Linked DNA regions of Homo sapiens. The protein of the gene in region 1 purifies or fractionates together with the protein of each later gene. This does not show direct contact. Each region holds a gene or a part of one and is shown on either strand. Other genes may lie near its edges. The genes, in order: PACS2 and WDR37.

The links.
Region 2: the proteins of PACS2 (region 1) and WDR37 purify together in Homo sapiens (affinity purification with mass spectrometry; 4 studies listed by BioGRID and IntAct, with this or other methods). This does not show direct contact.

The regions. Positions count from the first base shown.
Region 1 is NC_000014.9:105,306,594-105,321,457, reverse strand, and holds the start of PACS2 (phosphofurin acidic cluster sorting protein 2), read right to left. Parts: upstream 6,711-14,864; 5' UTR 6,540-6,710; coding exon 6,421-6,539; intron 6,137-6,420; exon of another isoform or gene 5,869-6,136; intron 1-5,868. UniProt on the Homo sapiens protein: Multifunctional sorting protein that controls the endoplasmic reticulum (ER)-mitochondria communication, including the apposition of mitochondria with the ER and ER homeostasis.
Region 2 is NC_000010.11:1,050,530-1,065,798, reverse strand, and holds the start of WDR37 (WD repeat-containing protein 37), read right to left. Parts: upstream 9,415-15,269; 5' UTR 8,831-9,414; intron 1-8,830. UniProt on the Homo sapiens protein: Required for normal ER Ca2+ handling in lymphocytes. Together with PACS1, it plays an essential role in stabilizing peripheral lymphocyte populations.

The DNA.
Region 1 (14,864 bases):
CTGGGAGTTCAAGGCTACAGTGAGCTGTGATCGTCCCACTACACTCCAGCCTAGGTGACAGAGTGAGATCCTGTCTGGAAAAAAAAAAAGTATCAAACAGAAACTGACAGAACTGTTAGAAAACCCGGACCAATCTATTCTCAGATTATAAGATTTTAACATACATTTCTAGTAGACAAAAAAAGGGAACGGACTTGAAGACCACAGTAAACCAAGCTTGATCTAATAGACAAACACTGCACCATCAACTGCCAAACACACATTCCTTTTAAGTATAAACAGAACGTGCATTAAAATTGACACACTGACCCAGAAAGCAGGTTCAAAAAAAAATGTTTTTGCAGTGGCGCCATCTGGGCTCACTGCAACCTCCGCCTCCCAAGTTCAAGTGATTCTCCTGCTTCAGCCTCCTGAGTAGCTGGAATTACAGGTGCGTGCCACCACGCCTGGCTAATTTTTGTATGTTTAGTAGAGATGGGATTTCACTACGTTGCCCAGGCTGGTCTCGAACTCCTAACCTCCGGTAATCCACCCACCTCAGCCTCCCAAAGTGCTGGGATTACAGGTGTGAACCACCAGGCCCGGCCAGTCAGGTTATTTTATAAGTGAATTATCCCAAACATTCAAGGAAGAAATGATTCCAATTTTACATAAGCTATACCACGATACAGCAAAAGAGGCAGTACTCATTTCATTTCACAAGGAAATCTTAGCGCCAAAATCTGCTAAGGACTACAGAAGAAAGGAAGCACATAGACCCCAGACACACATGCAGAAGTCCTAAACAAGATACTATCATCTAAACCCACCAATGTGGGCAGGTAGGGAGGCTCACACCTGGAGTCCCAGCTCTTTGAGAGGCCAAGGTGAGAGGATCACTTGAGGCCAGGAGTTGGAGACCAGCCTGAGCAACATAGTGAGACCCCATCTCTACAAAAAATTTAAAATTAGCCAGGCCAGTGGCATGCACCTGTAGTCTCAGCTACTCAGGAGGCTGAGGCAGGAGGATTGCTTGAGCCATGGTCACACCACTGCACTCCAGCCTAGGCAAAAGAGCAAGACCCTGTCTCAAAAAATAAATACATAAATAAATATATATCCACCAATTTTTAAAAAGGGTAATACAACATGCTTAAACTAGTATTTTTCCAGGAATAGGTTAATGTTAGAAAATCAATTTACGGCCAGGCATGGTGGCTCACGCCTGTAATCCCAGCACTTTGGGAGGCTGAGGTGGACGGATAACAAGGTCAGGAGATCGAGACCCTCCTGGCCAACACGGTGAAACCCCGTCTCTACTAAAAATACAAAAATTCGCTGGGCGTGGTGGTGCACACCTGTAGTCCCAGCTACTTGGGAGGCTGAGGCAGGGGAATTGCTTGAACCTGGGAGGCAGAGGTTGCAGTGAGCTGAGATCACGCCACTGCACTCCAGCCTGGTAACAGAGCGAGACTCTGTCTCAAAAAGAAAAGAAAAGAAATAAAATCAATTTATGTAATTTACCACAATAGTAATGAAAAGATAAAAATTATATAATCCTCTTAATGAAAGTACTTGATTATATTCAACATCCACTCATAATGATTTCTTTAAAAAGCCTTTGCAAGTCATGAATAGGATGAGACTTTTTAAGTGCATAAAGGCTATCCACAAAAAGTTGCAGCAAACATCGTCCTTAAAGGTAAAACACTGGAAACCTTCCTTAAGGTCAAGACAGAACACGGGTAATCCACGCAACCAACCATATTCAACACTGTACTATGACAACTGGCACAGTCAGGCAAGAGAAAGAAAGAAAAGTATGAGGATTGAAAAGAAACAACTTTGTCTTTTGCAAAAGACAAAACATACATTTTGAAAATACAAAATAATCTATAGATAAGTTACTAGGTTAAAAATAGTAAAATCACTGATTTCTTTGAAAAATCAACTGAATTTCTATATGTTAGCAACAAACATAATAAAAAGCTGACTTTTACTATGACTTCTAAAATACAAGCATCTAGGAATAAATGTAACAAAGGATATGCATGACAGCAGAATCTTGTAAAACTCTCAAAATACATTCAAGACCTAAGTAAATAGCTTGATCATGAATGAGAAGACTCAGTACCACACAAACGTCAATTCTCCCCAACCTGCTCTACAGAGTTAAAGAACTTCCAATTATAAACCAAATGTGGCTTTGTGTGAAACTTAAAAAGATAATTCTGGCTGGGCGTGGTGGCTCACGCCTGTAATCCCAGCACTTTCAGAGGCCAAGGCGGGCGGATCACGAGGTCAAGAGATCGAGACCATCCTGGCCAACATGGTGAAACCCTGTCTCTACTAAAAATACAGAAATTAGCTGGGCGTGGTGGTGCACGCCTGTAGTCCCAACTACTCAGGAGGCTGAGGCAGGAGAATTGCTTGAACCCGGGAAGTGGAGGTTGTAGTGAGCTGAGATCGTGCCACTGCACTCCAGCCTGGGCGACAGAGCTTCTCAAAAAAATAAAATAGGCAGGGCGTGGTGGCTCACGCCTGTAATCCCAACACTTTGGGAGGCTGAGGCGGGCGGATCACGAGGTCAGAAAATTGAGACCATCCTGGCTAACACGGTGAAACCCCATCTCTACTAAAAATATAAAAAAAATTAGCCGGGCGTGGTGGCGGGCGCCTGTAGTCCCAGCTACTCGGGAGGCTGAGGCAGGAGAATGGTGTGAACCCAGGAGGCGGAGCTTGCAGTGAGCCGAGACAGCACCACTGCACTCCAGCCTGGGTGACAGAGCGAGACTCCATCTCAAAATAAAATAAAATAAAATAAAAATAAATAAATAAATAAATAAAATAAAAATACAAAAATTAGCCGGGCATGCTGGCAGGCGCCTGTAGTCCTAGCTACTTGGGAGGCTGAGGCAGGAAAATCGAAACAGGGAGGCGGAGGTTGCAGTGAGCCGAGATTGCACCACTGCACTCCAGCCTGGTGACAGAGTGAGACTCTGTCTCAAAAAAACAAAACAAAACAAAAAAATTAGACAGACATGGTGGTGTACACCTGTAGTCCCAGCTGCTCAGGAAGCTGATGTGGGAGGACTGCTTGAGCCCAGGTTTTAGGGGTTACAATGAGCCATGATCAAGCCACTGCACCCCAGTCTGGGCCACAAAGTGAGGCTCTGTCTCTAAAAACCAAACAGATGGCCAGGCCCAGGGGCTCATACCTGTAATCTCAGCACTTCGGGAGGCCGAGGTGAGAGGATCACTTGAGCCCAGGAGTTCAAGACCAGTCTGGGCAACATAGGGAGACCCTGTCTCTGCAACAACAACAACAAAATACATAAATAAAAACAAATTAATAAACATCAACCGAAAAAACAATCAAGTGGGAAGGGCAAGGTACAAAGCAGCCCAGCCCTTGCTGAAGAGCAGGTGGGGGCGCTCAGGGACATGGGCACCAGGAGGACACTCTGGGAACCCAGGAGGCAGAGGCCACAGACAGGCACTGACGCATACCCCGTGGACCACCTAGGAGCACCGTGTGTAACAGTGCTGAGCCAAAAGCGTCGCAAGGAAACCCGGAGCACAGGCCTCCCCAACAACAGCCCAGCATGCCCAGTTCAAGCTCCCGGGGGCAGACTTCTCCGGCTGCCTCCCAGAAGGAGAACCGAAACGAGACCAGCACCCCAGCCTGGCAAACAGTCAATGTGCACACTCCACCAGGCTGACACGGGGAGTGCACCCAGAGGCTGCTCAGAGAGCAAAGACTCGCTCATAACTGGACGGGGACATCCTCAACACAGCCGAGAAAGGATGACTATCTCTAAAGAAACTGCTGAAACTCAAGCAGAAAAAAAGAGAAAAAAAAACTGGCAAAGGAACAGGAATTTCACTGACAAGGAAGTACAAATGGCCTAAATTAGTAATCAGAGAAATTCAAGTTAAAACCACGATACCACTTCACACCCACCAGACTGGCAAAAATTAAGTCAAATGAGTGTTGGCACAAATGTGGAGCAGTGGGGACTCTCGTCCCTGTCAGTGGGGGCCGGAGCAGGCACAACCACTCTGGAAAACTGCCCAGCAGTAACGCTGAGTGCGTGCACACCCCCACCATAAATCCTGGTAGCTGGCGGTACATGCTTAAGACAGGCCCTGCCCATCCAGAAAGACACACGCAGAAGACTGGCACACGATGTCCACAGCAGCACGGGGCTTGTAATTAACCAAAAAACTGGAAACAAGCCAAGGTCCCTTGACAGAAGCAAAGCCGAGGTACTGTCACGCCAGTGAATAGTACGCAGCAGTGAACACGCCGAAAGGCATCAGCACACACGCAGCCCAGAAGCTTCATGGCTGGGCAAAAGTGAGGAGTACAGAAGAACTCAGGAGGAACAAAGCAAAACTAAGTAGCAGACTGTCCGAGGATGCACGGACAGGCGGCACAAGCACAAAGCAAAGCTAGGGGCAAGCCCGCCTATGAGGGGCCCTGTTCCAGGACAGGTAAGGGCAGGAGCTCATTATGAGGCTGAGCATGTCCTACGAACAAACTGCATCTGCCCACCTGGTCAGCTGCGCCACTCGCCCCTCCGCCCATTAACTCCTCCGCCCATTAACTCCACACCAACAGAACAAATCCTGTCCTCCTGCCTACCCTTCCTCCCAACCCTGTCCAGGCCAGAGCTCGGGACCCCCCCCAGCACTTAGTGCTACCCAGCCCAGGTGCCCCCATCTACCCCCGCCTGTCCTAACCAGGCTTCTCGAAACCCGCCCTACCCATACCCTCCCCACAGACACCAGAGTGGGCTTTCTAGACCCCTGGAGAATAGAGCACAGCTCCACAGGGGGGCTGATAAGGCCCCCGGCCCCTCCTGCCACACGCCCCCACCTCCCTTGGGTTAAAGACTTTGCTGCTCATTCGGAGGGCCCCAGGAAGCTGCTGCAGAGGTTCAGCAAGGGCAGGCTATGTGCTGCAGTGCTGGAGCAGGGGAGCGCCAACAGCCCGCATGAAGGTTCTGGGGCTGTGGGTGAGGCAGTGACTCAGAGGGGCAGACAGGAGAAGGGCTGTGGGGCTGTGGGACCTGACATTGGGGCAATCGCCAAGACCTGGAATGGAGAAGCAGCCAGGCCTGGGGAGATGCTCCTGGCTTTGGCTTTGAGGCCCCAGAGACTTCCCAGAAGAGAGGCAAGCAGGCACATCTGCAGTGCTCGGCCCCAGACCTTGGGCAAATGCTGACCCTTAGGTCTCATATGGACACTGGGTCCTTCGGGAGGCCCCGCCAGGTGCAAGAGTCGTGCCGGGTGGGCATCCTTCCTGTCCACTCAGCAAAACCAAAGCCCCGAGGTCCCAACCCTGCGCTCCAGGAGGGCAAGCCCCACTGTCCAGCGGCTCTGCAACTCCAACACCACGCTCAGAGATGCAGGCTGTGGGAGCCACAGGAAAGCACGGAGAGGCCCACCTGCAGCTGACTAGGGGTGGAACAACTCAATGCCACGTGGGGTCCCCTCCAGGCATACTGGCCACTTCCAGTGCCTGGAAGGTCCGCTCACCCTCCCATCTCCCCAGGGAGAACTCTCACTACCCCCAACCGCCTCCTCTTCTCGCCTGCTGTCTATTCTAGAACCAGAACTTTTCCGGAGAGCGTGTCTCTCTCCTCCTTAGCCTGGGAGCTTCCTGAGCAGGAACTACCAAGTCACGAAGAAATTACAAAAGTTTCAAACTGAGCAGGAGACTCAGGGAAGCTGCAAGTCCAAGGAAGGCTGGGCTATGGCCGGAGGGTAAACCCTGTCCAATCGTTACCGCTGGGCGACCGGGCGCCCCCCTACCAAGTGCAGAACAGCCAGTCTTCCGCAATGGCAAGATCAACTGGGAGGCGCAAATAGCAGTACTGGCTTGGCGACGCCTCTAAATGAGAGACAGCGCCAACCAGGTACCCGCGAGGACGACCCCGCCCCGCAGGACAGGGCATCTCCACCGCGCGCTGGACGGAGGATACAACCGAGTCCTGCGCGCCCCGTGCGCCGGGGGTCGCTCCCAGGCCGAGGTCTGACAGTGTCGCCGAACGCGAAAGGAAGCGTGTGGTACCCGAGAGAGGAAGCACCCTCGTCACCCCGGCCGGCACCGCATTGAGGCAGGTGTGCAGGTGCGGTTGCGGCGAGCCAGGTGAGCGCCGCCCGGGAGCCCCAAGGTCCCGCCGGGTCTGAGCAGCACCGGGTCCTCGGAAGCTGAGCGCGGCCCCCGGTGCTCGGGACCTGGGGGGCTGGGGCCGCGCTTGCCGGAGCTGCGGGGGGGCGGCGGCTGCACGCGTCGAACCGGCGGGCGGGGGCGCGGGGGGCGACCTGGGCTCCGCTGGGGGACCCGGGCCGGGGATGGGGCGCGCAGAGGCCGCGGCCAGGACACCCCCAGCAGGTGCCCGGCGGGAACAAAGCGCGGCGGGCGGCGCGTACCTGGGCACGCAGCTGGGGCTGGAGCCGTCCACCTCCCAGGTGGCGAACAGGTTCATGGGCACGGGCGTGTTGAGCGCGCCGGGCGCGCCGGGGAGGCCGAGGCGGCCTCGCTCGGCCATGGCGCCGGCCCCGCCGCTCCCTCGGCGGCCTGGGGCTGCGGCCGGGCCGCGGACGCGCGGCGGGCGGGCCGGGCGCGCGGAGGGCGGCGGCGCGGTCACATGGCTGCCGGGCGGCGGAGGGGACGGGCCGGGCCCCGGCGTCGGACAGGCCCGCGGGCGGCGACGAGCTGCGGCCGCTCCGCCCCGCCCCGCCCGGCGCCCCGCCCGCGCCCCGCGCGCCCCCGGCCGCCCCGCGCGCGCCCGGCGCCCTCCGACCCGCGCCGGCGCCGCCGATTGGCTGGGCGGGGCGCCAGCTCGCCGCCTCGGGTCCAATCGCCGCCGGCGCAGCGCGCGCCGGAAGTGAGGTGCGCGCGCGCTTCCTCCGGCGGCGCCTCACGGGGCGTCCCCGCCCGCCGGTGCGCGAGAGCGCGCACTCACGCGCCTGCGCACAGACCCCGCCCGGGGCGCCCCGCCCCGCCCCCCGGGAGCCGCGGGCAAGGGCCGGGAGAGTCGTGGGGGTCCACCGGGTCCCGGCCAGCTTCAGGCGCCGCCCCCTAAGGAAAGCTCATCGTCGCCCTGGCGATGCCCACCTCCCCACGCGCGGATTCCCCGGCCTCGACACTTTCCCGCCTCCACCCCGCCATGCCCCGAGTCTCCCCGCCCCCCTGCCCTCGCCGCCCCTTGTCTCCTGCCGACCCCCGCTGGGTTGGCCCGGCTGTGCGGGCCCCGCCCGTCCCCGAGCCCCTCCCTCGCGCCCCCCTGCGTGGGTTCCCCGGGACGCAGGGAGGTGGCAAGGAGGTGGCCGGGCCTGGCGGCGGTCGCGGGGACTCGAAGCCACTCGGGGCGCCAGGCTGCCGAGCTTAGCCTCCAGGGCTCCAGATGACCCCGGGCGCCCTCTTTGCGTCCCAGCATCCTTATTCAGCGCCGCTTTTCAGCGTTGTGCTCAGGACAATGGAGAACAAATGTCTGGGGCCAAGGCTGGCTCCTGGCCCTGGGGTTAACAGTGAACTTGGGGACCCAAGCAAAGAGGAGGCAATGGCTAGAGCCGCTGGGGCCCGACGTGTAGGCTCTGGGGCTCAGGGAGGGTGCTTCCCCCATCTGTTTGGCAGCGGCTGTGGTCCAGCACCAGATGCCAAGCCGAGATTTAGGAAACGGTTTTCTGGCCTCTCTTCTGTTTCCTTGTTTCACAGTTAGTTTACAGTTGCTTTTCTCTTCGCCCTGTGTCTTGTCTACAAGTAGTTTTACTGAAACAAATCCAGCCCGAGCAAATTGACCTGGAGCTGGTTTCTTTCCTGGCCCACGGGGCTTGCCACCCCAGTGCCCCGTCAGCTCCTTCTGCAAAGGCCCTCATGCCGCTGCTTCCTCCGTTGAGAGAGCTCAGCCTCCAGCTGTAACTCCTGTATCTAGAACTGCAAACAGCTGCGACTGCTTAAAGTCAGGGTCCCACTTCGGAGAGAACAAGGGACTCTGTGTTTCCCACGCGCCCCTGGCTCCTCTAAGGTGGTACACTGAGAGCCATGAGGGTCTGTCTGACCTTGGCCAGCTGCTCGGCGGGCAGAGGGCCGGTGGATCTCATACCTTTGAGACAGGGTAGGGGGAGAAGTGACTATGTCCAGAGAGGGGGTAGCCATACCCCAGGAGGACAGGCTGTCTGTGATGGGAGGGCAGGAGACAGGCACCCATTGACCCCAGAACTGAGCGTACGGCGCTGCTGGACCTGGCGAGCGTGCAGTTGCAGTCAGACGGATGGGCCGCCTGACACATGGTGCCTGTGTATGCCAGCGTCTAACCCAGGCAGGGACTACAACTGGGGGTCAAGTGAGGAGATGCGGGGTGACTAAGCCGTGCACAGCAGGGCTTGGCACCAGCTGCCACCATTGAGCGGTGCCCCTCCTCTGTGCCAGGCACCGTTGTGAGCCCTTAAGGGACGTGACAGTTCTGTCCCATCCCAAGTGACAAAAGAGGAGATGGCGGCCTGTGAGGTTATGCAGCTGCCAGGGGTCGGGATATGACCCACACAGTCTGTACCAGAGTGGCCCGAAGAACCCGTATGGTGGGTCTACATCAATGCTTCTGCCAGGCAGGAAAGCAGGGACACGAAACACACCATGTGTCACGCCTGCGACCACGTTTATGTTTGTTTTTAAGGTGGGATGGTGGTGATGGGACTGTGGTCTTCTGTATTTTCCAAGTGCACAGATGTCCCTTGGGTGATCAGAGTAACTTTTTAGCCAGAACTTGTTATTTGCACTGCCCTCCTCTGTCGGAAAATGATGCTGTGCTGGTCCTTCTCTTGAGGGCTGTGGGTCACAGGAGGAGATCCCCTGAAGGCTGGGAGGCATCCCTCCCCATGCTATGACCCTGGCATGGTGTGAGCCCTCACCCCCGTGTTTGGAGCACAGGTGCTTTCTCTGGTAGCGTTTTCTTTAAAGCAGGAACTTGGTTTGAGACAAACCTCTCGGATGACTGGGGTGGCTGGGCACGGTTGGGGAGGAGGTCCAAGAAGAGGATCCTTCAGAGCCCTGGGGTCTCAGGAGGACAACCTGAAAGCTGGTCCTACCACGTGCTGCCCGGGGTCCCCGGAGGTTGTGGGAGTTATTATTATTTAAGAAGTTAAAGCTTCAAGGTTCTGAATGCTTGGCTAGGATTCCATTGGTATTAAAAAGACGAAGCCCCAACCCCCAGTCATGGGACAGGATGGGCCGAGGCCTTTCCTCTGTCCGCCTGGCTTCGCTAGGTCCCTCCACCTAGGGTGAAGGCTCAGGCTTTTCCAGTCGGGCGCCAGGACCATGGGCTGCTTGGAAACGCATTCATCTCCTCAGCCTGGGCTAAGATGACACAGACACACAGCAGGCCCTGCTGAAGTCGGGGAGTGGGGGAGGGGCCTCCTCCAGGGCCAGCACTGGTCAGTTGGCGGCTCCAGCCCACAGCGCCCCTACTCCTTCTCCTGCCAGGAGCTGGGCTGAGGAAGCAGCCCCACGTGGCCAGGTCCCTGCCCAGCCCATGCTATGGCAGAGGGACAGAACTGCCGAACCCCTAGACAGGCCCTGCCGCATCCACTCCCATGGTTGGAGCACATGGCCATGACTGAGGCTGAGGAGGAATGGTCACAAAAAAGGTACAGCAGGGCCCTCCTCCTGGAGGCATTTTCTGGGAAGCCATGTGGGGGATGGCCAAGAGCTCTAAGACCGCTGAGATCGCTGCACCCGCAGCCGCACCTGTGGACAGTTCCCACGGTCACCCTTAGAGCAGCTCAACTGCTGAGAGTGAGGCCTGGAATCAACCCCGGGGTTGTAGAGTAGAACAGGGTTAGGTGAGCCATGATAGAACCTGATAGAATATTCTACAGCTGGCAGAAATAGTGAGTTAAAAGTAGCTAAAAACAGGCCAGTCGCAGGGGCTCACACCTGTAATCCCAGCACTTTGGGAGGCCAAAGCGCACAGATCCCGTGACCTCAGGAGTTCAAGACCAGCTTGGGCAATATGGCAAAGTCCCATCTCTAACAAAAATACAAAAACGTACCTGGGCATGGTGGTGCGCATCTGTGATCCCAGTGACTTGGGAAGCTGAGGTGGGAGAATCACTTGAACCCAGGAGGTGGAGGTTGCAGTGAACCAGGATCACACCACTGCACTCCAGTCTGGGGGACAGAGCCAGGCTCCATCTCAAAAAATAAAAATAAAAAGGCCGGGCACAGTGGCTCATGCCTGTAATCTTAGCACTTTGGGAGGCCGAAGTGGGTGGATCACCTGAGGTCAGGAGTTTGTGACCATCCTGGCCAACATAGTGAAACCCCATCTCTACTAAAAATACAAAAAATTAGTGGGGCATGATGGTGCGCGCCTGTAATCCCAGCTACTCGGGAGGCTGAGGCAGGAGAATCGCTTGAACCCAGCAGGCAGAGGTTCCATTGAGCCAAGATTGTGCCACTGCACTCCAGCCTGGGTGACAAGAGTGAAACTCTGTCTCAAGAAAACAAAAATGTATGTGAAAATGCATGTCCATGTGCAGTATGTATTTACATGTTAGTGATTATACATATAAAACACCTATTTTCAGGTATAGAAAAATATTGATAGGATACAAATTAATCCAAAGTGTTAAGAAAGTATCTCTGTGTGATGGGGATTCCATTGATTTGGTTTCTCCTTTTTGCTTATCTTTATCTCCTATTTTCTCCATGATGAACATGTATTAATTGTGTAGGGAAAATCAAACCACAGCAGGGTGAGCTGCCGCTGGCTGGAGAGCCGGGCGCCATCTGGCTGGGGCTGCGCCCCGTCCTGAAAAAACCAAACGTGCAAAGGGAACCCTCACCCAACGCAACAAACTATTGAGGATGATCTTTGTAAGAATACTGAATGTTTCACTAGGGTAACATTCTTTTTTTTTTTTTTTTTTTTTTGAGACAGAGTCTCGCTCTGTCTGTCGCCCAGGCTGGAGTGCAGTGGTGCCATCTCAGCTCACTGCAAGCTCTGCCTCCCGGGTTCATGCCATTCTCCTGCCTCAGCCTCCTGAGTAGGGGGGACTACAGGCGCCTGCCACCACGCCTGGCTAATTTTTTGTATTTTTATTAGAGACGGGGTTTCACCGTGTTAGCCAGGATGGTCTTGATCTCCTGACCTCATGATCCGCCCGCCTCGACCTCCCAAAGTGCTGGGATTACAGGCGTGAGCCACTGTGCCTGGCTCACTAGGGTAACATTCTTAATATCAAAGGAAATCATACAAGTCCATAAGACCACTAAAAAATTCCCAGTGGAAAATGGTTAGAGAAGCTACAAAAGATTCACAAAAGAATAAGTGAGACAGTTGTCACTACTATCACGAATTGTAAATTATAAAAAGATGCACATGGCTGGGTGCGGTGGCTCATACCTGTAATCCCAGCACTTTGGGAGGCCGAGGCGGGTGGATCTCCAGGTCAGGAGTTCAAAACTAGCCTGACCAATACACTGAAACCCCGTCTCTACTAAAAATACAAAAATTAGTCGGGTGTGGTGGCGGGCGCCTGTAGTCCCAGCTAGTCGGGAGGCTGAGACAGGAGAATTGCTTGAATCCAGGAGGCGGAGCTTGCAGTGAGCCGAGATTGTGCCACTGCACTCCTGCCTGGGCAAGAGAGTGAGACTCCGTCTAAAAAAAAAAAAAAAAAAAAAAAAAAAAGACACACATCACCACCTTCTCCTTAATGCAGGCTAATCTAGACCTAATACAGACCTAAGGTCGTGATGACATCCTCGGTGTCCTGCACGCTGCTCCCCTCCTGGGTTGGGCGCAGGCAGCGCAGCTCCCTCACACAGCACCTGGGGCAGGACCCAGAGCAGCTCTGCAGAGTGGCTTGGCAGCGTCTTGGGAGATTTGCCTGGGCTCATGGGTATCCCATGGCATCCTGCAGGTGACACTGGAAATGTCAACAGGGACACAGGTCCAGGTGTGTGAGATATTTCAAACAGCAACACCTACAGAAAGGAATGTCCAGTCCAGGGGAAATGACAAAACTTGCCCTGGCACATCCACCCCATGGGATGTGGAATAACCAGCAAAACGGAACGCTGCCTCAGTTTTAGCAACATGGGGAAATTCTCAGATATGTGATTGTGTGACAAATCAGGGTGTAAAGTTGAACACAGCATGACCTGGATTCAGGAATAAAACTCTCCCCTCTTGACTGTGGTTATCCTGAGCCCCAAGATTAAGAGGGACCTTGATGCATAAATTTTAACACTTCTTTCTTTCCCACAATAGAATATCATCACAATAAGCCAGGACATAACTTAAATATTAGAAAAGAAAGGAAAACACCCAGGCCCTAATACAGAAATCAGCCAAGGACATTCACAGACATCAGAACAGCAATTACCGCAACACGTGTCAACCAACACTCAACCTCAGTGCTCTTCGTGCAGGATGGATTTCTGGTTTTGTTAGGTTTTGTTTGTCTTTTTCTTTTTTTTTCTTTTGTTTTCTTGACAGGGTCTTGCTCTGTCAACCAGGCTGGAGTGCAGTGGTGCCATCATGGCTCACTGTAGGCCAGATCTCCTGGACTCAAACCATCCTCCTGCCTCAGCCTCTCAAAGTGCTGGGATTACAAGTGTGAACCACTGTGCTGGGTCCCTAAGGGTTTTAAAAAATTATTTATTTATTTAGAGACAAAGTCATGGCTGGGCACAGTGGCTCATGCCTGTAATCCCAGCACTTTGGGGGGCTGAGGCAGGCGGATCATGAAGTCAGGAGTTCCAGACCAGCCTGGCCAACATGGTGAAACCCTGTCTCTACTAAAACTGCAAAACTTAGCTGGGCACAGTGGCTCATACCTGTAATCCCAGCTACTCAGAAGGCTGAGGCAGGAGAATCACTTGAACCCAGGAGGCGGAGGTTGCAGTGAGCCAAGATTGCACCACTGCACTCCAGCCCGGACGACAGAGCAAGACTCCATCTCAAAAAAAAAAAAAAAAAAAGACAGAATCTGCCTCTGTCGTGCCCAGGCTGGAGTACAATGGTGCCATCTCAGCTCACTGCAACTTCTGTCTCCTGGGCTCAGGCAATCCTCCCTCTTCAGCCTCCCGAGTAGCTGGGACCACAGGCATGTACCACCACACCTGGCTAATTTTTGTATTTTTGTTAGAGATGCTGTTTTGCCATATTTCCCAGGCTGGTCTCAAACACCTGGGCTCAATCAATCCTCTCACCTCAGCCTCCCAAAGTGCTGGGATAACAGGTGTGAGCCACTGTGCCCGGCCTAATTGTTTTTTTGGGGGGGACAGAGTCTCACTCTATGGTCCAGGCTGGAGTGCTGTGGTGTGATCATAACTCACTGCAGCCTCAGTCACCTGGGTTCAAGCGATTCTCCTGCCTCAGCCTCCCAAGTAGCTGAACTAGAGGCACGCACCACCACGCACAGCTAATTTTTAAATTTTTTGTAGAGACAGGGATCTCACTTTGTTGCCCAGGCTGGTCTCGAACTCCTGGGCTCAAGCTATCCTCCCACCTCTGCCTCCCAAAGTGCTGGGATGACAGGCGTGAGCCACTGTCCTGGCCTGGCCCTTGACTTCTGTGGTGGAAGGTGGACTGGAGCCTCACCAAGTCTCACTCGAGTTGCGGAGAACAGACAGGAACAGGGACTTGCCTTCTGAGCAGTCTGTCTACCAGACACATGTCCTCCATCATACTCCGCAGTGCTAGGGTGGGCTATTCTTATCCCTGTTATGCAGATGAGGAAGTAGAAACCTAGAGAGATTGAAGCACTTGCCCAAGGCCAGGCAGCAGGTGAGAAGGTGAGAAGGCCATAGAAGCTTGCTTTCTCATTTCCCCTGCTGACTGCTGCATGGGGGGACAGGGCTATTGAGTACCCAGGAGTTATTTTGATCAAATGTGATAAGATGACAGACACAGAGACAACCGCCTTTGAAAGAGGAGTTTATTACTCACAGTTCCCAGGAGGAGGGGCACGTGGGGAAGCACCCAGGGCCAGTCAGGACAGGGAGGGGGTGAAGGGAAAGGGTGGGCAAGAGCCTTTATTGCCATTTTCCAGGCAAGGCAGAGGAGGCAAGCTGAGCAGAATTAGAACTGGGTCATTTCAGTGGGCTCTGGGCTTGGGGGTGGTATCTAGCTAGCTGGTACCTGGCCTTGGGGTGATTTAGGGCAGGGGGCTAGTGTTCAGGAATGCAGGAGCCTGATGAAAGGAGGCAGGTGGGACTCATGATGGTTGCTCTGCATATCAAAGGTATGCTCAGCCTGCACGGTGGCTCAAGCCTGGGATCTCAGTACTTTGGGAGGCTGGGGCCAAAGGATCTCTTGAGCCCAGCAGTTTGAGACGACAGTGAGCTATGATCATACCACTGCACTCCAGCCTGGGTGACAGAGTGAGACCCTGCCTCAAAAAAAAAAGAAAAAAAGAAAAAATAAAGTAAATAAGGCATACTCAGAGGCAAGTGGTCAGCTGTCTCTAGGAATTAGCTAACCCTGGGAGGGGAGTCCCTCTCTAGGTCCACGAGACCCCAAGATGTCAAAGCACCACAGATGAGAACACGATGGGGCTTGGCACGGTGGCTCACGCCTGTAATCCCAGCACTTTGGGAGGCCAAGGCAGATGGATCATTTGAGGTCAGGAATTCAAGACGAGCCTGGCCAACATGATGGAACCCTGACTCTACTAAAAATACAAAAATTAGCTGGGCGCAGTGGCAGGTGCCTGTAATCCTAGCTACTTGGGAGGCTGAGGCAGGAGAATTGCTTGAACCCGGGAGGTAGAGATTGCGGTACATCAAGATCGTGCCATTGCACTACAGCCTGGGCGACACAGCGAGACTCAGTCTCAAAAAAAACCCCCAAAAAACAGGCCAGGTG
Region 2 (15,269 bases), on another chromosome or scaffold:
ACTATAGTGACAGCAAACACCCTTGCTTTGCCCTGAATATTCGGGTGAAAATATTGTGTTTCACCATTAACTTTGATGCCAGCTATAGATTTTTTTGTAGGTGCTGTTTATCAAGTTGAAAACGTTTCCCTCTATCATTCATTTTCTGAGTTTCTTTCACGAATGAGTGCTGAATTCTATCATGTTTTTTTCCTAGTAGCTTTTTTTTTTTACCTACTGACAGGACCAATTACACTCATGACTTTCAAACATTGATCCAACCTTGTAGCCACAAAATAAACTGCACTTGTTCATGGTGTATCATTCATTCTCTCTCCCTCTATTCTCTTTTTTGCCTTCTCGTGGGGTAAACATTTTTTATAATTTCATATTTATTTACCTACAGTATTTCTGAGTTTGCCTGTTTTGTATAACTTTTTAGTGGTAGCTCTAGGTTTTACATTATACATTTACAGCTTATTGTAGTCTACTGATTATCAACATTTTACCAGTTCACATAAAGTATACAAATCTTACTTTCCTCTATGCTTCTTTACCTTTCCCCATTTATAACGTAATCACAAATATTTCCTACACATACACTGAGAACCACACCACGGTTATGCTTCAAATTCCAAACACAATTTAGAAAATAAACGAATACTAAATTGACCGATATTTTTGCTGTCCATTCTTTGTTCTTCCCTCCTGATGTTCCCACATTTCTTTTGTCATTTCCTTTCTGTTTGGAGAATTTCCTTTATTTGTTATTTTCATAGAGTAGGTCAGCTGGAGATAAATCATGTGAAGGAAGTTTTCACTTGATATAAAATTCTGAGTTGATAGTCCTTTTCCTTCAGCACCTGAAAAAAATGTCCTGCCACTTCCTTATGCCCTCCACAATTTCTGATAAGATCCACTGTCAGGCCAGGCACAGTGGCTCATGACTGTAATTCCAGCAAGCGTGAGGGAGGCCGAGGCGGGCAGATCACCTGAGGTCAGGAGTTCAAGACCAGCCTGGCTAACATGGTGAAACCCCGTCTCTACTAAAAATACAAAACTAGCCAGGCGTGATGTGGCATGCCTGTAATCCCAGCTACTTGGGAGGCTAGGGCAGAACTGCTTGAACCTGGGAGGCAGAGGTTGTAGTGAGCTGAGATCACACCACTGCACTCCAGCCTGGGTGACAGAGCAAGATTCCATCTCAAAAAAAAAAAAAAAAAAAAAAAAAAAAAAGATCCATTGTCACTCAAATTGTTTCCCACTACAGGTCAAGTGGTATCTCTCTTACTATGCTTCTGTCTTCAGTTTTCAGAAGTTGGCCTGGATGTGTCTTAGCATCTTTGTGTTTATCTTCTCTGGGTTTATGCTGCTTCTTACGTCTGAAGGTGTATGGCTTGCCAAGTTTAGGAAACATACAGCAGTGATTTCTTCAGACACGTTTTCCCCCCACCCCGTCCTTCTCTCTTTCTAGACCTCTGATGACAGATGTTGCATCTTCTGTTAAAGTCCCACGGGCCCCTGAGGCTCTGCTCACTTTTTTCCAGTCTATTTTCTCTCTGCTGTTCAGATTGGGTAACTTCTATTGTTCTATCTTCAAATTGACAGCTTCTTTTGTCTGTCCTCTCCTTTCTGCTGCTAAGCCATCCACTGAATTTATTTCACATATTCTATTTTTCACTTTTGAAATTTTGTGTTTCTTTTTTACATCCTGTATTTTCTTCCTGAGGCTATTTGTCGTTTGTCTCGAATGTTAATTGGTTATTGAAGCATTTCTACAATCGCTGCTTTAAGGTCCTTGTCAAATAATTCTAAACTCTGTGTCATCTCTACGTTGGCATCAGTGGTCTTTTCTTACTGAGGTTGAGATTTTCCTATGAGTGATTTTCCATTGAAATCCTGACATCAGACTCAGGATCTGATGTAAGTCTTCTGTTAGAGCAGGCCTCTGCCAGGTGGATGTGGACGGTGAGGTGGAAGTTGAGATTCCCACTCAGCCTCCACGGACCCCTGCATGAGAAGGAAAGTTCAGCCTCCTGCCGAACTTCCACTCCCACCACCAAGGCTGAATCAGGGCTGCCTCCGTGCTGCTCCCTATACAGTCTCCCCCACACCACAGGGGGGTGGCCTCATGACCACAGGGCAGCAGTAAAGTTCCTGAGTTTTGCAAGGTCCCTCTTATGATACCCTAGCAGAAAGGAGGCTGTGCTCTGTCACCACCCAGCAGAAGTAAAACCCCAACTCCTCAGCCAGTCTTCTCTGACAGCAACCCTGCAGAGAGGAGCATCTCATCCCAGCTTGTCATGAGTGGGAATCTGAAGTACCTGCTCAGCCTCTGATTAGCAGGGTGAGGGTGGTGCTGCAGGGTTTCCTGTGATATTTAGCTGGAGGAAAGTACTTACCGCCGAAAAGTTCTCTGATTAGCAGGGTGAGGGTGGTGCTGCAGGGTTTCCTGTGATATTTAGCTGGAGGAAAGTACTTACCATCGAAAAGTTCTGTGATTTGTAGGCTGCCCCTTTCCTGGTCTTTCAGACACAGAGAGCAGGCTTTTCTTGGGCCTTGTTTTGTCTGAGTCCTTTTATACCTGCGCTGCTAGCTTATCCAGCACAACATATGAGATACATGAGGCAAAAAGAAAACTCACAGAACTAAGTTTGGTGTCATTTCTGTGGTCCCAATGTACGAAGGAAGTCTACCTTCTTTTCTCCATCTTTCAGTCTCTTTTTTTTTTTTTTTAACAGAGTGTCGCTCTGTTCCCCAGGCTGGAGTGCAATGGCACAATCTTGGCTCACTGCAACCTCCACCTCCTGGGTTCAAGCAATTCTCCTACCTCAGCCTCCCAAGTAGCTGGGACTACAGGTGCCCAACAGCACATCTGGCTAATTATTGTATTTTTAGCGGAGACAAGGTTTCACCATATTGACCAGAGTGGTCTCTAACTTGTGACCTTGTGATCTGCCCGCCTCAGCCTCCCAAAGTGCTTGGATTACAGGCGTGAGCCACTGCACCCGGCCCACTCTTACATTTGTTTTATATATGTCCAGTGTTTTTAGATGTACTTCATGGGAGGAATAAGGAAAAATAAGTCTCCATCTTTCCGCAAGCAGAAAGCCAAGAATCATCTTTTATTCTCAAATTGCATATGTGTAGGCCTATTTTTAAAGGAGAAGTAAGTCTTGCTTTACAACATAAAACAGTTACTTTGTAGTTTATGGAGTATGTTTTGTAAAGGAAAAAAAGAAACCACATCAAAAGCCTGTGAAAGCTGTCCTGATATGGCCTCAGAGAAAAAGGGAGACTCTATCTTCAGTTAAATGAAGCAAATAAAACCAGCAAAGGGTTTCCCTTCCCTCTCTTAAGAACTTCATCTGTAGAAACATTCTGATGCATTCCAGACATTCTACAAGTTCGTTACCAAAAATGCAGAGATTACAATATCACCTTTCCTTTCTCATCAAAATTATAAGTTTTGGATCACTGATTTTATCTCACTGGCTATTCCAGCCTCTCCGTAAGTTGCATGGTGTTCTCTTTGGTTTAGCTTGCTTTCTTCGCCACTTCACAAAATAGTCAATACCGCCGGCAATCTTTTTCTGCTGATCAACTACAACCAAATGTATGCATTTCCTACAATCACCTCCCTGGAACTTGGCACCAAATACAGATTTTTTCATACTGGAGTAATCTTATCATCTCTGTATTCACACCCTCCACATTTTTTCCCAGTGTCTGTATTGGTCCTATCACCACTTCCTTCCTTTCACACCACATCCTCCATGGAAACTCAGTCCTTGGCCCCCCCAAAAAAAAAAAAGCTCAAGACCAGAAGTGTTTCAGAATTCAGATGCTTTCAGATTTTGGAATATCCGCATATACATAGTAAGATATCCTAGGGATGGGACCCAAGGCTAAACTCAAAGTTCATTTATGTTTCATGTATACCTCATGCACGTAGCCTGAAGGTAATTTTTTTTTTTTTTTGAGATGACGTCTCCACTGTTGCCCAGGCTGGAGTGCAGTGGTGTTAACCTCGGTTCACTGCAACCTCCATCTCCCAGGTTCCAGCAATTCTCCTGCCTCAGCCTCCCAAGTAGCTGGAATTACAGGCACCCAACACCATGCCCAGCTAATTTTTGTATTTTTAAGAGAGACGGGGTTTCACCATGTTGGCAAGGTGGTTTCGAACTCCTGGCCTCAAGTGGTCTGCCCAGCTCGGCCTCCCAAAATGCTGGGATTACTGGCCTGAGCCACCACAGCAGGCCTCCTGAAGGTAATTTTATTTTGCCCTAGGGGATCCTGAATAAACTATGTTGCGCACCCACATTTTGACTACAACCTGTCTGTCACAAGGTAAGGTGTGGAAATTTCCACTTGTGTCATGTTATGGATTTTGAATTTTTGGATTAGGATGCTCAACCGGCGTAGCATAAATCTTATTTAAATGTTTAATCACCAGTTTAGGGGGTTTTCAGGTTGGTATCATGGGAAGAGGGACAAGGAAGTGGCAGGTGTTTGTAAAACTACTGAAATGGTATACCATGGAATCTAAAATAGACAGGAAGGGAAGTGAAAACAGAAAGAATTAATGGAGAGATACTGGAAGAAAGTTGGTGGACTGGCAGATCTACCAGAGGCTGAAGAGCTACTACAAAGAATTGCTGTAAGGCTCAAATGGATCAATAAATACAAAGAGTCACTAATCCTCATAACATCCCTATGAGACAGAGTTCCCAAATCCAATTAAGAGCCTTTCAACACAGTCATACATCACTTAAGGATGGGGACAGGTTCTGAGAGATGCATCGTTACGTGATTTCGTCACTGTGGGAACATCGCAGAGTACACTTACACAAAGCTAGGTGCACAGCCTACTCCACACCTAGGCTAGATGGCCCAGCCTGCTGCTCCTAGCCTACAACCCTGCACAGCATGTTACTGTACTGAATACTGCAGACAACTGTAACACAATGGTATCTATTTGTGTACCTAAACATATCTACACATAGAAAAGGTACAGTAAAAATAGAGTATTACAATCTTATGGGACCACCATCTTACATGAGGTCTGTTGTTGACCAAAACATCATTTGTTATGTGGCACCCGATTGTATTTAACAGACTAAACACTAATAAACTGATTATAGAACTGTAAAGAGAAAAAACAAACTTCTTCACTCCAAATATAACCTTCTTTAACCTCTATGCACTGTTTTACCTAAATACAAGCAAAGAGAAACCTGAGATTCCAAAACGTAATTATTTTCCTTCAAAATATTCACATTTACCCAATATTATTGGACAGATTACCATATTACAAAGAAGGCTTATGGAGATTAAATGTCCTTCTGGTTTTCAATAAAACATTATTTTCAAGAAACTATAAATAGTCCCCTCTAAAAATTCAATCTCTTTATCCTACCATGGATTTAACAGAATAAACGCTCCTTCTGAACTCCTGACTCATTTAGTCTGTCCAGTTCACCTGCCCTTAGTATATGTTGCCGTGTACGTAATACACCCCACTGCTTGTAAGCAGTCAGAACAACAGGCACACAGCTGTGATGCAGCACAGTGCTCTACACACAGCAGGCACTGGCCAAACATTCGACTAATTAATGAAACCCATAAACACACTGTGTTAGCAAGCTGAATTCCTCATCTTTAGAAATGCTGTAATATTGGGCCAGGCATGATGGCTCATGCCCGTAATCCCAGCCTTTTGGGAGGCCCAGGCAGGCGGATCACCTGAGGTCAGGAGTTTAAGACCAGCCTGGCCAACATGGTGAAGTCCCGTCTCTACTAAAATACAAAAATCAGCTGGGCGTGATGGTACACGCCTCCCATCTACCCTGGAGGCTGAGGCACGAGAATTGCTCCACCCTGGGAGGTGGAGGCAGTGGTGAGCTGAGATCATGCCGCTGCACTCCAGCCTGCGTGACAGAAATGCTGTAATATTAAACAGCATCAATGAACACTTAGCTTTCTGCTCTTTCTCAAAAGATTCTTTTATATATATATTTTTTGAGACAGAGTCTCGCTCTGTCGCCCAGGTTGGAGTGCAGTGGCGCGATCTCGACCCACTGCAACCTCCACCTCCCGGGTTCAACCAATTCTCTGCCTCAGCCTCCTGAGTAGTTGGGGTTACAAGCACCCACCACCACGCCTGGCTAATTTTTTGTATTTTCAGTAGATACGGGGTTTCACCATCCTGGCCAGGCTGGTCTTGAACTCCTGACCTCATGATTCACCTGACCCAGCCTCCCAAAGTGCTGGGATTACAGGCATGAGCCACTGCGCCTGGCCAGATTCTTTTCAATATTTCCAATATTAATTAATTTGTAGCTATAGAAATTATCATTCTCCTAAGTGTGTATAATTTGAGGAAGGCAGATAACATAACCAAAGTAGCTTGAAACAGCAATACGACAAATTCTTTTCTTTTTGACACAGAATCTCGCTCTGTCTCCCCAGGCTGGAGGGCAGTGGCGTGATCTCGGCTAACCGCAACTTCTGCCTCCTGAGTTCAAGTGATTCTCCTGCTTCAGCCTCCTGAGTAGCTGGGACTACAAGTGCCCGCCACCATGCCCAGCTGATTTTTGTATTTTTAGTAGAGACGGGACTTCACCATGTTGGCCAGGGTGGTCTTGGACTGCTGACCTCAGGTGATCTGCCCACCTCGGCTTCCCAAAGTGCTGGGATTACAGGCATGAGCCACCACGCCCTGCCAACAAATTCTTAATTTACACTTTCATTTGAAACAAAAAACACAAAACATTACTTTCAGTTTCATATCCAGTAGGATTTTAAACATTTTTCTTTCATCAAAGCAAAAACACTTGCTTAAGTGGTTAATTTCACAAATGTTAATCACATGCAAAAGAATGGTTAAGGAATATAATGTCCATGTGGCATTAAAAATAAATTGGAGAAATAAATTGAAAATTGCATAAAATGTGATGGAATTTCCACCAGAAGTTTAATCAAGTTTGTAGTAACATTTTATCGTAATAACACTGTTAGACGAATTCCTAGTGGGCTGAGACACCAAATTCAACTTCTGAGCAATATCGAGGAAGAGAATGGTCTCTACAGGCAACCTCAGAAATCTGTCATCAGTATTAACCTGCTTAAAATGTTTTGTCATTGACGAAATGAAGGCATGGAATACATACACCATCAATTCTGTGGATGACAATCAATTAGGAAATACCATTAATCAGATAAATAGCCATCAAGATTTTCAAAAGATCTCAGTAGTTAAAAGAACAACTTTAAACCAAGGATGAAATTCAACAGATGTAAAATCTTTTCCCTGAAAAGAATAAGACAGGATAAATATGAAAACTCTATCTTAGTTTCACCTTGGGGAAAGGGACTTAGGGATTTTAGTTCAGGGCAAATGCCCAAAGTGAACAGCCTAACATAGCTACCCAAAAAGAGGAGGAGGGAAACACACTCACTCAAGATCTCCTGTATACAGCACTTTGCAAAAATGGCTGGCATATATTACATAACGTAACCTTCCCAGTAAGAAAATGAGGCTGATATGAACACCATGTTAGAGGACAGGGAGTCGGGACTTAGGAAGGCCTTGCCCAAGGTCACACTGCTGTTGAGACGTGGCCAGTGCACACGAGTCCCTACTCTGTCTCCTGTGAGCAGTATTAATAGAAAGGCAGCGTCTAAACCCAGGGGATAACAGATCACTCCATTTGTTCCACATTGGTGAGTTCATATTTACATACCGTGTTTAACTCCTGGGACATATCAAAAGCTATTTTGAAAGACTCGAATTTGATCAGGAAAGTAACCAGAACAGTGTGTGTGTCTGCTGGGGTTGGGGGAAGTTCAGAAGACGAAGAAAGTTCCTGGAGATATAACTATCTTGAGCTTTCTCATTCAGAGGTAAATAATTCCTGCAATACTTTTATGACCGTAACTCACAGGCCAACATACTGAATTTAAGAGAAAAACACTTGAACTTCAATAAATGAAACTTCCAAGCAATTAACACTTTTCTATAATGGTATCCGCTTCAAGGGACGAATGTTTTAGCGTTTAAGTTAAATGACAAAATCTCTAAAAACCTGGCAGACCTTAAGCTATTTTCACTCACAACCTGGAAAAATGTATTTATTCAACTTGGTTTAGTAAATGAGTACATTATTATTGTTGCTCTTGTGTTATTCCGGTGAACAGCTGTCTTAAAATGTTTCCCTCCAGCGGTGGCTGCTTTCAGGGGGAAGGGAAGGAAAAGGAAGTCTTCAAAAGGGGAACAATATCATGGCGCTGTGTTAATCACTTCAGCATCCGTCACTCCACACTCACCACCCTTCTTGAAGCCGACCATCCCCACTCTTTGGAGAGAAGAAAGGCCATTCTCCTCTCTGAAGGGCCTCCCAAGTGCTTCCCTGGAGACGCACTTCCCCGGGATGCCCAGGCCGAAGCAAAGGGGGCGGGGAGAGACCCCGGGCCGAACCCTTCTGCCCCCAACCCCTCCAGCGCCCCGACTCTTCCTGGACTCCGACATCTTCTGCACCGCCCCGGGCCCCCATCCCTCCCGCACCCTGGTCCCTCTGGCACCGCCACGGACTACTCCTGCGCCCCGACTTCTCTTGCACCCTGAACCCTTCTGCACCACGGCCCTTCCTGCACCGCCACGGGTCCTCCAGGGACCCGACCCCTCCTGCACCACCACGGACCCTCTGCATTCCAAGCCCACCTGCACCCCATCCGCCACTATGCCCCGACTGCCCCTGCACCCCCTTGAGCCCTGCAGTGTCCCGACTCCTCTTCGGGGCATCCGGGGAACGACTCGGCGCCTGACAGGTAGGAAGATGGCGGCACTCACCTGTCACAGCAGCTGCGCCCGCCACCCCCGGAGCCAGCCCAGGTCGCGCACCGCCAGTGAGTCCCTACGACGCGGCCCCCCGTACTGACCCGAAGACGCGCAGGACACCGCTGTCTCCGCACTGACGCGACCCCACAACCCCAACCTGGCGCTAATGCACTTCCGGTGTCGCCGGAAGTCCCGCCCCAGTCCCGCGCCGCTGGGTTCTCCGGAAGCCGCCCCACACCTCCGCCCCACACCCGGCGGCGCCGGAAGTCACGCCCCGGCTTCCGCCCCGCAGCCCCGAGGGGTCTGGGCGCGCTGAAGACCCCTTCGGCTGCTGGGCCAACGCCCCCACCCTTGGTCACGTACTCCTGCCGCCGAGCGGTTCGCGGGAGGTGGCCTCGGGGGTCGTAGCTACTCACCGGCGGGGCGCTCCGAGTCCATCTGCCCCGTAGCCCGGCAGCCGGGGCGGGAGGGCTGCGAGCCCGGGGCGCGGTCCGCCTGAGGCCTGAGACCCGGGGCCGCCTGCGCTCAGGGCCGCGGTGCCGGCCGCGCGGGAGCCTGGCGGGGACGGCGCGGTCAGTGTTCGGCTCCTCCGCAGTGACTCACCAGCGTCCTGAAGCTTTTGATCACCATTGGCTGGGAAGGAAAAACAGAATCAGCTGTTCCCTGCGAAAGGTGGGACTTGGGCCGCTTTTTTCTTAGAATCTAGGTTGGAAACGTCGCATGATGGTCTTTACGTAAACAGCCGTCTCAACGCTCTACAGAAAGCGCTAACCGCGCATTTGAAGCCCACCTAGAGTAAATCAAGAGCGTGAAAGCATTTTTTTTTTCTGTGTAGGTTAACATTCCTGCTCCTTCCTTTAAAAAGGAAGCTCAAGGCCAGGCGCGGTGGCTCACGCCTGTAATCCCAACACTTTGGGAGGCCGAGGCCGACGTATCACGAGATTAGGAGGTCGAGACCAGCCTGGCCAACATGGTGAAACCCTGTCTTTACTAAAAATACAAAAACTAGCCGGGCGTGGCGGCGCGCGCCTGTAACCCCTGCTACTCGGAAGGCTGAGGCAGGAGAATCGCTTGAACCCGGGAGGCGGAGGTTGCAGTGAGCCGAGATCGCGCCTCTGCACTCCAGCCTGGGACAGAGCGAGCCTCCGTCTCCAAAAAAAAATAAGGAAGCTCAAGATGAAGAGTCAGAAGTGGTAACTTGTTTGTTGCACAAGAAACAAATTTAGCATTCTATTTAGGGGATCCAGATTACCAAAAAAAAAAAAGAAGTGAAGTTATTTCTGCATTAAGTATATTAATAAAACTTTATCACTAAAAACAATTCTGTAAGAGGAACGCCAAGGAAAAAAATATTTGAGTTTTTAGAGAAGTCATTTTTTAAACTTTTAGAGGTTGTGACATTTAAGTAACATAATTTTATTTAGTACCTAGTATGCAAAGACATTGTACTGGGCATGGCAGCAAATAGAAAGCTTTGTAAATCGCAGTGTCCCATCTAATTAACCCGCATTCTAACAGGTGGTTTTATTTTTCTGGACCGCACCACAGTCAGGTAACACCAAGAATATCGCTAATGTAATTTTTTAAGTTGATATATTTAGGATTCCATAAAAGTCACTGAAAATAACTGAGAGCATGACATGTCACAAAACAAGGGAAAGAAATCATTTTGAGGATCAGTCGCTTTACATCTTTTGTAACTAATTTAATCCCCAAAGGAATCCAATAAAGTAAAAGTTATTCTAAATTGAATTTTAAGCATGAGAATGTGGAAATTACTCGTCAAAAGTCAAAAATAATCGTGCAGCAGGGCAAAGACTAAAGGCTGGCATCAGAATCCATATTCTTTTCACTGTTGATGTGCTAGGGCTGCAGGAACAAAATACTGCAAACTAGGCAGCTTAAACAAATTTATTGTCAGAGGTCTGACTGGAAGTCCCAAATCAAGGTATTGGCAGGGTTGATTCCTTCTGAGAGCTGTGATGGGAGCCTGTTAATGCATCTCAGCGTCTAGGCATTCCTTGGCTTGTGGCAGCATGCCCCCGCCAGTCTTCACATGACGTTTTCCATGTCCGTGTCTGTCTGCACACTTAGCGTTCTTTTTATGAGGACATCAGTCATATTGGAGTACAGTAGACGCTACTTTAATATGACCTCATGTTAACTAATCATATCCACAACAACCCTGTTTCCAAATAAGGTCACATTATAAAATACTGGAAGTGAGGTCTTTAACACATGAATTTGAAAGGGGGACACAATTTAACCCATAACACACTGTATCCTGAAATAACTATCCAATGTAATTTTTTTAAAAGACACAAAACTAGCCGAAATTATAAAAGGTTATGATTGCAATCCTGGTATCCAGTTACATTCTCCCTCCTGCAGAAGCTGTGGAGAATCCTGTCTCAGAAAACCAATTTCTATTTTGTCACATGTCCATCTATGCAAAATACATGTACTTTGTCCCTGACATAGGGCAACAATGCTGAATTTACTAAGACTCATTTTTGCGCATGGTTTGATAGGGAATTAAGATTTACTAGGTATTCTGTCATTGTCCTCATTACTGATTATTTTAACTGTGTCTCAAACACTTGGATAGTACACTATAGTGTTATAAGCTGTTTGACATGTCGCTTCCTAAATTCTCAAGTTATATATATGTGTGTATATATGTCATGTAACAGGCACAACTGTTTTCATGTGTATCACTTTATTGCACTTCACAGGTATCATATGTTTCTTACAAAGTGGAGGTTTGTGGCAGCCCTGCATGGAGCAAGTCTGTCAGCACCATCTTTCTAACAGTATGTGCTCACTTCATGTCTCTCTCACATTTTGGTAATTCTTGGAATGTTTCCGTTATTAAATCAGTTATAGTGATCTGTGATTAGTGATCTTTGATATTACTGTCATAATTGCTTGGGGGGCACCATGAACCACCCCTATATAAGACAGCAAACTGAGTCGATAAATGTTTTATGTGTTCTGACCACTGCACTGACCAGCTGCCTCCCTATCTCTCTCCTTCTGCTCAGACCTCCCTATCCTTGAGACACAGCAATACTGAAATTAGGGGCCAGGCATGGTGGTGGCTCATGCCTGTAGTCCCAGCTACTTGGGAGACTGAAGCAGGAGGATTGCTTGAGCCTAGGAGTTCGAGGCTGCAGTGAGCTGTGATCACGCCACTGCACTTCAGCATGGGCAGCAAAGCAAGACCCTGACTCAAAAAAAAAAAAAAATCAGGCAATTAATAGCCCTAAAATGGCTACTGTTTCATAAAAGAATGAGTTGCACATCTCTTACTTTAAATCAAAACTAGAAATGATTAATGATTAAGCATGGTGAGGAAGGCATGTTGAAACAGCTAAGTCGTGAATGCAAAGGAAAAGTTCTTGAAGGAAATTTGAAGTGCTCCTACAGTGAATACACAAATGGTAAGAAAATAAAACAGCTTTATTGCTGATATGGAGAAACTCTGAGTGGTCTGTATAGATTAAACCAGCCACAATATTCTGATAAAGCCTAATCCAGAGTAAGGCCCTAACTCTCTTCAGTTTTCTGAAGGCTGAGAGAGGTAAGGAAGCTACAGAAGAAAAATCTGAAGCTATCAGAGGTTGGTTCATGAGGTTGAAGGAAAGAAGCTGTCTCTATAATACAAAAGTGCAAGATAGGCCAGGCATGGTGGCTTATGCCTGTAATTCCAGCACTTTGGGAGGCCAATGCAAGTGGATCCCTTGAGGTGAGGAGTTCAAGACCAGCCTGGCCAACATGGTGAAACCCTGCCTCCACTAAAAATACAAAAATTAACTGGGTGTGGTGGCACACGCCTGTAGTCCCAGCTACTCAGGAGGCTAAGGCAGGAGGATCACTTGAACCCAGGAGTTGGAGGTTGCTGTAAGCCAAGATCACACCACCACACTCCTGGGTAACAGAGTGAGACTCCATCTCAAAAAAAAAAATGTGCAAGTGCAAGATAAAGCAGCAAGTCATCTAGGAGATCTACCTAAGATCACTGATGAAGACGGCTTTGCTAAACAATAGGTTTTCATTGGAGTTGAAACAACCTTATTTTGGGAAAAGATGCCGCCCAGGACTGTCATAACTAGAGAGGAGAAGTCAAAGCCTGGCTTCAGAGCTCCAAAGGACAGGCTGACCCTTGCTAGGGGGCTAGTGCAGCTGATGACTTTATGTTGAAGCCAGTGCTCATTTATCATTCTGAAAATCCTAGAGTCCTTAAGCGTTATGCTAATTCTAGTCTGCCTCTGCTGTGTAGATAGAACAACAAAGCCTAGATGACAGCACATCTACTTACACAGTGTGGTTTACTAAATATTGTCAGCCCACTGTTGTTGAGACCTACTGCTCAGGAAAAAAAAAAGATTTCGTTTCAAAATATTACTGCTGATTTACAGTGCTCCTGTTCACCCAAGAGCTCTGATGGAGATATACAAGGAGATTCATGTTGATTTCATGCCTGCTAACACAACATCCCTTTTGCAGCCCATAGCTCAAGAAGTCATTTTGACTTTCAAGTCTCATTATTTAAGAAATACATTTTGTAAGGCTATGGCTGCCCGAAGATGTAACTGAATCACTGCACTAGCATAATAAAACATGAATGGATAAGCAGTTGCTTCTTGTGGATGAACAAAGAAAGTGGTCTCTTGAGATGGAACCTAATCCTGGTGAAGATGTGAACACTGTTGAAATGATAACAAAGGATTCAGAATACTCCATAGACTTAGTTTATGAAGTAGCAGCAGGGTTTGAGAGGATTGACTCTAACTTTGGAAGTTTTCCTGGCCGGGTGCGGTGGCTCATGCCTATAATCCCAGCATTTTGAGAGGCCAAGGTGGGCAGATCACAAGGTCAGGAGTTCAAGACCAGCCTGGCCAACATGGTGAAACCCAAGCTCTACTAATAATACAAAAATTAGCCGGGCATGGTGGCACACGCCCATAGTGCCAGCTACTCATGAGGCTGAGGTAGGAGAATTGCTTGAACCCAGGAGGTGGAGGTTACAGTGAGCCAAGATCGCACCACTGCACTTCAGCCTGGGCGAAAGAACGAGACTCTGTCTCAAAAAAAAGTTTTCCTGTGGTTTAAAAAAAATCTTTCATGAAAAGAATTGTCAATCAACGTGACAAATTTCATTATTGTCTTATTTTAAGAAACTGCAACAGCCACCCCAACTTTCAAGCACCACCTTGATCAACAGCCATCAACATTGAGGCAAAACCCTCCACCAGCAAAAAGATTATGACTCATTGAAGGCTCAGCTGATGGTTAGCAGTAAAAAATATTAACTTTAATCATCTCGACCATTCAGTACTCATCTAATATTCTCTATAACAAAATGGGAAATGCACATAAAGCACTTCTGCTACATGCTGAATTATGATTGTTGTCTCCAGGAAAAGAACTTGTGGGAACGTTTGAGTTGTAAGCTGAACTAACTAGCTGCTTTTTTCATGAAATACCGCTTTTACTGGAAAGAACTGACAGATAAACTGAGGTATTCAAACCTAGATATTTGGCAGACATTTTCGTGAAAATAAATATGTTCGTGCCACTTCAAGGAACATAATTCTCAGTACTTGTTGCCAATAATGTTGGAATTTTCATGCAAAAATTCAAATAAAAAACAAACTTAAAACCATCAAGAACTTGGTGACTTTATGTGGAAGCCAGTGCTACAATACTTTAGCTTCCCAATACTTAAAAACTTTTCTGATGAGATTACTAGTGATATTAACAATGTGATTGATATTGAATAATGAAATGTTTTAGCATTTGGAAGATCTGTTTAATTCAGTAAATCAGTATTTTCCAAATGACCAATGCATGACATTTCAACATCACGCACAGGAAAATAGGCATTCGAGGTACAGTCAAAAATAATGAGTTTTAATGTAACAAGTACAAAATGTCCATTGAAGTGGTTTCAAATTCCAAATAGTAATTGGAAAATCCACCACTCGTGTTTTGGGGTAGTAGTATCGAAAAAGAATAACCAAGATAATTTGAAAAGGCTATTAAAAAATACTTCTCAATTTTCAAACTGCATACAGCAGGTGCTCATTCATTTCTTTGTAACATTGATGAGAAAAAGACTCCCAGCCAGGGGCACTGTCTTTGTGGTGTTTACGTGTTCTCGCCACACCTGCATAGGTTTTCTCTGGGTGCTGCAGTTCTTGCCACATCCCAGAGGTGTGCACGTGAGGTGAACTGGTGTGTCTTCACTGTCCCAGTCTGAGTGTGGGTGTGTGAGTGGCCCTGTGATGGAATGGCGTCCTGTCCAGGGCTGGTTCCCTCTTTGTGCCCTGAGCTACTGAAACAGGCTTCAGCTACACATGACCCAGAACTGGAATAATTAAGTAATAATTATCTTTTTATTCATCTTTCTTAAATGTATGTATAGCTCACATTTATTTCAATGTTT